2 separate regions of the Homo sapiens genome follow, and region 1 is linked to region 2. The links come from fine-mapping of genetic effects on gene expression. Tissue or cell type: transverse colon. Region 2 holds a variant in brackets; the other region holds the start of a gene. All regions are shown on one strand. Distances are from middle to middle.

What was found.
Region 1: IYD starts here. The variant in region 2 is fine-mapped to the expression of IYD in transverse colon (CEDAR, PIP 0.95). The same link has a PIP of 0.9 or more in ileum and rectum.

Annotation. Positions count from the first base shown.
Region 1 is chr6:150,366,076-150,371,458 of GRCh38, reverse strand. It overlaps IYD (iodotyrosine deiodinase), which reads right to left and starts at 2,447. Exons shown (of 5, transcript NM_203395.3): 1 at 2,250-2,447. The coding sequence starts at 2,427.
Region 2 is chr6:150,401,730-150,407,112 of GRCh38, reverse strand. IYD (iodotyrosine deiodinase) reads right to left here. Exons shown (of 5, transcript NM_203395.3): 5 at 1,144-5,383. Among named protein-coding and RNA genes, the nearest start is that of IYD, 35 kb to the right of the region's middle. RefSeq lists a silencer at 3,206-3,500. The variant G/A (reference allele first, on the strand shown) is at 2,935.

The DNA.
Region 1 (5,383 bases), 36 kb after region 2:
ACTCTTTCTGGTCTCTCAGAGAATGTTGGTCCCTGCTGGCTATCTCCTGCCTCCTCCATTCTAGGTCATTCTCCCAGGGGAGAGGCAGCCCAGCAAACAGCTGGCTTGGGTCCTATCTCTGCAATCACCTTCCTGAGCTTACCCTATTGGGGCCTCAATTTCCTTATCTGTAATATGGGGATTCTAATAGTGCCTACCTCATTGTACTGTCATGAAGATGAAATGATTTACTACACATAATATGTGGCTGTGATTGCATACATTAAGAGCTATTAATATATAAGGGCTTGTTACTGTTATGATCCCAGAGCCCCCTTTCCCACAGCTCCTCCCTTTCTCTAGTACATTTTTCTTCCACAGTTCCTCTTAACCGCATGTGTCCCTCAAGTTCTATCCTCAGCCTTCTCTCTAGCAATGCCCACTTTGTGGATTCATTATTTCTCCAGGTTCCAAGTATCTTCCCCATACTGGTGACTCTCCAGTCAGTATCTGTGGCCTGGGCCCCTAACATAGACTGCTGTCTCCCTTTTCTGCTCAGGTGTGTCACTGTCGTCTGAAATCAAACATGTCCTCGATGGAACTCAACATCTTCCCCTTTAAGCTGGATCCTCATTCCCTCACCCACTTATGATAGCTTCCAGTCTCCAACTCTCCCTCTCTCCTCCTTTTCCCAATATCCAATTTACTAGCAAACCCTGTTGCTCTTCCATTAACTTTACTCTGATCCACGCCTTCCACTGCATTCCCACCTGCCCCCACCATCCAGGCCATCCTTACCAGCACAAACCATTACCCAGCTTCACAGCAGATGTTCCCTGGATTAAGGGAAGTGCTTCTCCGCTGGGTAGAATTGACGTTCTGAGTGGAAGAGGTTTCAATGTAGGAGAGCAAGAGGCAGCCCTGCTGAGAGGCTAGACTCCTGTACGGTGCAGTCAGCACTACAGGCTGTTAGCACTGAGAGCCAGCTGGACACCCTGCGCCCCGGTCCTGAGATTAGGACACACACTCATGCACACACTCTCTCACAAACACACTCATGCGCACGCACACACACATTCATGCATGCACACACAAACTCATGCATGCTCACACACACTCATGCACACACGTGCACACTCACACGCACACTCACCCACTCGTGCACACACACTCATGCACACACACTCACACATGCACATTAATGAACACTCACATGCACGCGCACACACATCCACTCTCATGCACACACACACACGCACGCGCACACACACATGCACATTCATAAACACACACTCTCACACACATACACTCACACACACTCACATGTCCAGGTGGCCTCTGTTTGGGGATGGGGGCATCATTAGCCCAGCTGAAGATCACAGAGCCTCTTCCAAATCGAACCCATCCCAGACAAAGCTTCTCAAACACAGATGGCTCAAGCTTCCTCCACGCTCTCTCCCTTCCTACCTGCCTCCTTCATCACCTCTTCTTCTCAAGGTGGCCATAACCTTCCCGCCCTCAATTCTCTACTTCCATTCTTACCCTCTCCCTCCACCCTCAATTCTCCACTTCCTCTCTTACCCCTGCCCCAGGCCTCCAGGTGCTTCTGCTCCTTTGGCTCCTTGTTGCCTGACAGGCCTCCCAGCACTTGCTATTTGTACCCTATTCATCCTCCCAGCCTGGTTTGTCCTTTCCCTGACTGCACCGTCAAACTCCCAGGCCTACTCTAAACACCTTAGAATCAGTTCCACCGGGTCTGTCTCTTTGTTACTCTCTCTGATTCTAGTGTATCATCTTGGCAGCTGAACTGGACATTCAGTTTGTTGAGGACAGAGGCCATCCCAGGCTTTCACTTCCAGGGCCTGGCACAGGGAAAGGTAGCAGCCTCCTAGGTGATGCCACTTGGTAGATTTCAAAGTTCCTGATCAAAACCTGGCCTCTTAGTCCCTGCCCACTGCCAGCCTGGGATGAATTCCTGCAGAAAGATTTTAACAACCAGAACAGAATTGTAGCCAGGGAAAACTTCAGCCTCTCAACAGCTTTTTCACTGGGCATCAAAAATAAAAAAGGGTTGGTCCCAGCAGGTGACAAGCTCATCACTGGAGAGAGATGACCTGTCTGTGCCAAGCACTGATTCATTAGCACAATAGAGGTTGATGTTGAAGCTGGCCTGTGTGTGTTTCTTCCTCTCCATAAGCCCTGCCATTGACTCACACTCATCATCAACACAACACGACAGCGAAGCTAAGCAGCATAGCTGGTGTCTTTACCTTCTTCTGCTTGGTGCAGGTCACTGCTGTCTTTTAAGTCTTCATCCACCCAGGGGCGAGCTTCGGCCCTGGTTCTAGGCTCCCCCTTCTTTTTCTCCATGCTTCTGTCGGCATTTTTAAAGATCCACACAACCAAAATGCAGAGAATGGCTACCAAGATGGGAGTCAGGAAATACATGGTCTGGAGTCTGACGTCACAGGCGTGCACACTTCCCACACCGGTTTTTAAACACACAGAGACAGGAGTGGAGAATGCCGGGAGATAGAAGGAATGCAGACACAGGTGTGCCAGGGAAGGAACAAAGTGCAGAACTCTTCAACTCTGTGAGGACTTTGCAAAGGAGCAAAGATCACAGTCACATGTGTGGGGTGTTGTGGCTTTGGTTATACACCAGTCCATTAACTTTTTAAAAGTATGTACTCTGTCGATATATTCTTAGACAACAATTGCCAGAATCTGAGTAAGAACTTGCATGTGCTAGATCTAGCTAGATCACCTGAAGAACTTGTTTTTGTTTTTGTTTTTTTTAAATAGATTTCCACACACCAACTCAGATCTGCTGGAAGAAAATGTTCAGGAAAGAGGTTTGGCACCATGCATTTTAAATGGCATATTTGTGAAAACAGCCCTAGGGTTTTGATTTTTTTTTTATGATACCTGAGCCAATATATGGAGTAAAGAGAATATCATGTTTTGCATCAGAGAAAAACTTTGATCCAGGAAAAGTGACACAAAAAATTAAAGTGACAACTTGATTATGTAATTACTTCAGTAGGGCTTTTTATGTGTTAGTTTGTCTGTCTGTTTTAGAAAGTGCCTTAGTCAGTTATGGCTGAAATAACAAAAATACTATGGACCGGGTGGCTTAAACAATATAAATTTATTTCTCAGCCAGGTATGGTGGCTCATGCCTATAATCCCGGCACTTTGGGAGGCTGAGAGGGGCAGATCACTTGAGGTCAGGAGTTCGAGACCAGCCTGGCCAACATGATGAAACCCCATCTCTACTAAAAATACAAAAATTAGTTGGGCCTGGTGGTACATGCCTGCAAACACAGCTACTCAGGAGGCTGAGGCAGGAAAATAGCTCCACCCAGGAGGTGGAGGTTGCAGTGAGCCGAAATTGTGCCATTGCACTCCAGCCTGGGCGACAAGAGTGAAAGTTCCTCTAAAAAAAAAAAAAGAAAGAAAGAAGAAGAAGAAGAAAAAGAAAAGAAAAGAAAGAAAGAAAGAAAGAAAGAAAGAAAGAAAGAAAGAAAGAAAGAAAGAAATTTATTTATCATTTATTTATCATAGTTCTGGAGGTTGAGAAGTCCATAATTAAGGTGCTGGCAAATCAGCTCCTGGTGAGGGCTCCCCTCCTGGTTTGCCAACAGGTGCCTTCTTGCTGTAACCTCACACAGTGGATGGTGGAAACAGATCATCTCTATCATCTTTTTTCTTATAAGGCCACTAATCTCATTAATGAGGGCTCCACTCTCATCACCTGTTCACCTCCCAAAGGCCCAACCTCCAAATACCATTGTACTGGGGCTTAGGGCTCCAACACATGAATTTTGCCAAGACATATTCAGTCTTTAGCATCAAGGTGCAAACGTATGTATAACATGATGCCATTTGAATAAAACAGAGTGGAAAATATGATACATTTATACAAACTTATATATGTATTTCCTGGAAAAGCATACTCTAAGGAGCGGTTATATCAGGAATTCTCTTTATTAATTTTGCAATTTCTTGTGAGTCTATATTATTTCAAAATAAACAGTGAAAAAAACAGTGGTTACTTGTTTTGGAGGGAGTGTGGAAACTGGATAGATGGGGGACAAGGGTGAGAGAATTTCTACTGAATACTATTCCATAATTTAAGTATTTTGAGCTGTTGTAAATATATTATCTATTTAAAAAATTGAATATGTGTTATTTATTTCAATACTCATTTTGATGGTTTTATTGTATCATATATTGTAATACTCCTTTTTGTGATAGACAGTTGTTTTTTAAGATGTATATCATATTGGTTCTCTAACTCCAGAGAACTCTGTAGAAGATAATAAACAAAGTTTATTATGGAAGCACTGGCCTCCACAGACCATTGAATTTGGTGGTGCTGCCTGCCATGCCGACAGCTTTTGTACAGGAAAGTGCCCTCCCTGTGCCTGCTGAAAGGGTGTCAGAGGGGACATGTCCAGTCCATGTGATCCAACCCCACGCAGGCAGCTGAAAATGGCAGAGCCTGTGTTGGGGCCCAGCTTCTCTTTACATCCCACTAAAAACACAGAATAAAGAAACCACTCCATAGCAAGAGAAGAGCAAGACAAATGTGCAGAGAGAAGCAAGGCCTGCAAGGCAGCAATGCCTCACAGCTCAGGGGAAGGACAAGGTGAGGGCCATGGGTGGCAACTGCCTCTGCTCCTAGGAGGTCCCAGGCCTGCCTCGGTTTCAGCCCATGTGTCTCCTTACCTTCGAAGAATCAGAAAGATCCTCGGTGCCTGTAACTACAAAAGCACAATTCATATCAGTGTCAGGAACAGGATTAAGCCCAGGAAAAATGGGGTGGTGGGAATTGGTTTTAGTGCACTAGTGGGTGAAGTCTGGGAGGCACCCCCATCTCAGAAGGGAATGCTAACAGCTGTGGCATGCAGCAGCTGGCTGGCTAATTGAGTATTGCCTGAGTCTCTTGGGTTTCAGACCATGTGCCCAGCAGAATGAGTCTGTAGGGGATTCTGAAGCCACTGAGAGCCCCGGAGGAGCTGAAACATAAGGACAACCATGCCAGAAGGCAGCTTTCCATCATGTTTGGTGACTTGCAATGGGAAAGAAAAGATTCTTGCTCTGAATTGCTTGGTTCAAGATAGAGAAGAAAAGCAAAATGACCATGCATTCCTTCATTCATTCATTCACTCATTCATTCAAAATATATTTTTTGGGATCCATGCAAAAGGCATTGCATTTGGGGCCAGAAATAGAACGGAGGGCAGTAGGGGCTGCACATGCTCATGGAGGCAGGAGCCACAGAGAGACAAGCGGATCGAATCTCATATACTAATGCCACATTCCAACTTCCCTAAGAGCTGCTAGGGAGCTGACTGGAGTGTGACTGGGCTGAGTTGGTGAAATCAGAGGCTTCCCA
Region 2 (5,383 bases):
TAACCACTTCCTCTTAGGGAGTCAGCAGCCTGGGCTCAAATCCTGCTTGGTCACTAAGATAGTTTTGTGACTCTAGACAAGTCACAGCACCCCTCTTAGCCTACATTTCTTCATCCATTCAACAAATATTCACATAGCAGCTACCGGCACCAGGAATAGAGAGGGGAGCATGATTGATAAATCATCTTAGAATTTATGATTGCATTATGGGAGTTACTCAGTAAATGAGTTTTTAAAAATCAGGGGGAGGGGGAAAACCTTTGAAGAACAATTTGGCAAGATCTAGAAAAGCTGAAATTTGACTTCTCTTTGACCCAGTAAGTCTACTCTTAGGTATATACCCTAGAGAAATTCTTAAACATTCCCACAGGACAAAGAATGAATGTAAAAGAATTTAAATGACAACTCATAAGAAAATGAAAAATGTGCGATATGTTCGTACAATGGTATAGAGCAGTAAAAATGAATGACCTAGAGCTGCACATTTCAACATGGACTATCTCATAAGCATAACTGAAGAATGTTGCAGAAAAATATGTAAAGTTTAATGCCATCTGTGTAGAGTTAAAATGGACAAATATTAGATACTATTTAGTGGCAAGAGTATTTTTTACATGCATGGGCATTAATAAGACCAAATTAGATTAGTGCTTTCTTCTGTGGAGGGAGGAAAGAGGATGGAACTGGGGAGTAATACATAGGCGGTATTAACTGTATTGATAATGTTTTGTATCTTAACCTACATTGTGGTTACATAGTTTTCATTATAATATTCTTAGGATTTTGTGTCTATATTTTAAATGTTGCCCTATAAAAATTTTAAAATTTATTAAATAATGATAAGTGCTCTGAAGAAAATAAACATCTGAAGTGATTGAGAGTGACTGGGGTTTGGTTGGGGGTACTGGAGATTGGGTGGTCAAGGAAAGTTTCTCAGCAGAGGTACTGGGTTGAGCTGAATCATGACTGACATGAAGGGAGCAGCCATAACAGTATCTAGGGGAGGAGCATTGCAGGTGGAGAGAACATCTAATGCCAAGGGTCGTGAATTGTAAAGGACCTAAGATTTTACCCTCCTCGCAAGATAGCAAGGTAGCCTGACTTAGTAGTGTGGATGCTGACAGAAGACACAAGACTACTGGGTCAGAGCAAGATATGTTATTATTCACAGCAGCAGGCAGCATGCTTTTCCTGTTCACACTGCTTCTCCTTGTTCCCCTCCCATGGTCAATATTCAGAGATAAAGTCAGTATAACTTGCTCATGGATTTGGATGTGCAGAATAAAAGAATCACAGAAATTTAAGATGATGATATGGTTTGGCTATGTCTTCACCCAAATCTCATCTTGCATTGTAGTTCCCATAATCCCCACATGTCATGGGAGAGAACTGATGGGGGATAATTGAATAATGGGGGCAGTTTCCCCCATGTTATTCTCATGAGAATGAGTGAGTTCTCATGAGATCTGATGGCTTTATAAGGGGTTTCCCCATTCACTCAGTTGTCATTCTTCTGCTTCCTGTCACCATGTGAAGAAGGGCATGTTTGCTTTTCTTTCTGCCATGATTGTAAGTTTCCTGAGGCCTCCCCAGCCATGCTGAACTGTGAATCAATTAAACCTCCTTCCTTTATAAATTACTCAGTCTCAGGTATTCTTTATTAGCAGTGTGAGAATGGACTAATACAGAAGATTTCTGGATTTGAGGCTCCATCCCAAAAAGTATGAATTGAGGGGCCAAGTAAGGGGTGGAAAGGACTCAAAAGTAGTATTTTGAGCATTAAAAGGTTGTGGTGCCTACTAACATCTAAGTGGAGGGACAGAGAAAGCAGCTGGGAGTAAGAGTTTGGCGTTTCAGGGCAAGGTCAAGGCTGAAGGTCTAGACCAGGGAGGGCCTGGCAGATGGAAGGTGCTAACAGCCCTGGGACTGATGAGCTCACTTGAGAATACTTGCCACATTTACCATACTCACCTGGTCAGCAGAATCACCTGGAACACGTTAAAAACACAGATTCCCATGTCCCTTTCAGATCTTGCATTCTAAAATTTTATGACTAGATTGAGATATATTTCTGCACACATTCAATATGTACTGAATATTTATTGAGCACCTATTATGTTCCAAGCACTGTGCTTGTTGTGATTGGTGAAGCTATAACAGCATCCGGTGGTTATGAAGAAAGACCAAGAGAACCACTGAGACTTTGGCACTAACTTCATTGAAGCAATAGACCAGCATCTAATATCTACCTCCAGACTTCTCACTAGGAGGGAAAAATAATCCCTTATTTGTTTGGGTTATAGTGAGGTTTTTTTGTTTGTATTACTTCTGTCAAAAGCATTCTGACCTCATACACACATTTTATTATCCTATTTATAAAACTAGTAAACAAATAAATAAAACAAATCTCTTTGGGGAAGGGGGGCTTTAATTAATGTTTGATTAACTCAAGTTGAATAAGCCAAACTCCCTTAAAGCATCAGTCTTAGTTATAGGCTTTGTTTATTAAAATCTTTTAAACATTCTAAACTTCTTGTGTAATTTATCATATTTAATTTTCTATTTTAGCACTTCAAATCATTGATATGACAAGATTATAACCAATTAAGACAAAACATTCTCATATATTTAAGCATCTCTTGTAAATCTAATACATTAAACTTATAGTAAATCTAGTCTAATACTTTTCATGAGCTAAGTTAAATATTCTTATACCTTTCAACTTCAAATCACAAACGTAAAATCAATTTCACATTTCAAATTGGAATCATAAGCTTTTTAAAGATTCAAATCACTTAAGGAGCATACACAAGATTAGTCCTAAACTTAACATGAAAGTATCAATATTATGGATTTGAATTATTGCATTATTTCCATAATGAATTCTACACATTCCCAGAGTTGGAAAATCATTTACCCAATAAGGGAACAGAG[G/A]TGCTATTTACTATTGTCAAGGACTCATGCCCACAATATGGTGGACAACTCAGATGAGCAGAGGTTGCTTAGGATCTCTGGTCATAAGACAGTACTCCAGCGCTGGGAGACAGTGCCCTGAGTGCTGTGGTTACTATGGGAACAGGAGGCTCCCAGTTTTCACCCTTCAGAGGGTTTTGATTTTAGAACCTTTATTCCAGTTACCTCCCAAGTATTATTTTTATTTTTAATTATTAGAGTAGAAGGAAGTTGGCGACTCCACCTAGGTTAGCTAACAACTTCCTTTATGATCTCATTGGCTTTTGCGTTTACTTGGCACTCTGCAGGCATTGCTAACATATTTCCATCCTGCTCTAAAGACATTTAAATGCTGTTGAATTCAATCCTGAACATTTGGCTCTGAGCCATGACTCTCAGGTCATGATAATAACATAAACCAATCCCCTGCCTCATGACTTTTTAGGAATTTCCCAAATGGGATTATAGCCTCTCACATTTCATTAGAACTACTGTATTTAGCTTGGCAGGATCTTAGCTTTGGGGGCTGTTCTCCCTTGAGCCTGCCCCTGGATGTGCTGGACGTCATTTGCTGAGGCCACCCAGATAGGGAGCAGACCTGGCATCAGCCTTAGATGCGTCAGCCCATTCCCTCCACTACCCTGCTGGGAGTTCCTTACCATTCCCACCTCCAGTTCTCTGCTATTCACCCTCTCTAAAAGGTAGATAAACGCAACGTTTTTTGAGTGTCCAGCCTATTTTGTGGGCTGAGTGGGGCAGGAGAAGGGAGGCACAGTAGCAGCAGAGCTGAAGCCACATTTCTTCTGGACCTCTCATTACTTGTATATATGTGTGAATTGAAAACACGATGTTACCTTTGTTTCCATTTCACACAAATTATAAGAGGGCACTCTGCTGATACCTAGCAAAATAAAATTATATTTCTCATGCCTCTCTGGCATAATATCCACTGATAACTATGTGTTTTTCTTCCACTTACTGATATTCCTAAAAGATGCTTACAAAATGTCTTTTAAAATATCACATCAGTTTGAATACTCTTTGGGAACTCCAATATTTAGAAAAACTAGCCTGGGTGTGGTGGCGTGCACCTGTATCCCAGCTACCTGGGAAGCTAAGGTGGGAGGATCACTTGAGTCCAGAAGTTGGAGGCTGCAGTGAGCTATAATCACACCACTGCATTCTAGCCTGGGTGACAGAGCAAGAATAAAGTAAATAGAGAAAACTATTGGTGGATCATCTTTGTAAGTTTGTAAATTTGGCTTAAAATGGGGTGCACTTTGCTGGGGTTTGAGCAAATGTGCAATAACTATTTACCCCCAATATCATGCAGCAGAGAAGTCACTCTTCCTTTCATAGGGAGGAGCAAATAAGAAGAAATACTGAACTGTCCTCCAGTACTCCTTGATGGAAGTTTCCATTTTGTGGACAGAGGCAGAGATGTCTAGGAAGAAGTCAATCTTAGTTCCACTTTATGTATGTTTATATCAATTTTCTTTGGCCCAAAGTGATACTCTATTTAAAGCTGTATTAGACAAATATCAACCGATCTTAGCGTTTCAGAAGAAAATCTTTATGCCTTTCACTGTCCTATTCTGATTTCACCAATTTCTTCAACTTTCCTTCTCCCCTCCTTTTCTTTTCTGTTATATCCAGTTTTGTTTTCCAAATCCAGAGTTATATGTTTTGGGGAAGAGACATCCAGCACCTACACACATCTGGGCCTCCTTCCTTGCAGGTGCAGGGGGATGATAACATTGACGACACTGCTCCACCTCCTGTGAGGTCACATGACTAGTTCTAGCCAAAGGGTTGTGAGACTGAGGAGGTCACTCCTAGGCCAAGGTACGATGGAATTGTTGGGGTGACCTCTTCCAGTGTTTTCTCCCCCTGCTGCCTCTAGGAAGGAGGCAGCCATGCCCTAGAAGTTGCATCCCACAGTATTACTGGGTTACCCCATGCAAGTAATTGTCTCGGAGGGTTTCCAGGCCTGCAGAGGACTTTGCCTGCCCAATAAATGAACTTTTATCACGTCAAGTCACAAGCATTGCATTTGTTGATTGCCAATGCCCCATGGTTCTCAAAATGTGGTACCCAATCACCAGCATCAGCAACACCTGGGAATACATTAGAACTGGAGCATTTGGGCACCACCCAGCAATACTGAATCACACAATCACACACCCTGAGGGTGCGGCCCAGCAATCTGTGCTTTAACAGACCACCAGATGAGGGATGCCAGCAAGTATGAGGACCATGGCTCTACCCCGTGCTGGCTGACACAACTTTGAGTTAAAAATTCCCTCTTGGCAAAGTAGAGTCTTCAGGTGAGTCCTATTAGTAAGACACAAACCATTTTCAACTTTCTTAATTAAGTATACTTCCTCGCAGTGATGCAATCATTCCATTATTTTTTTGGTTTTAAGGCCTC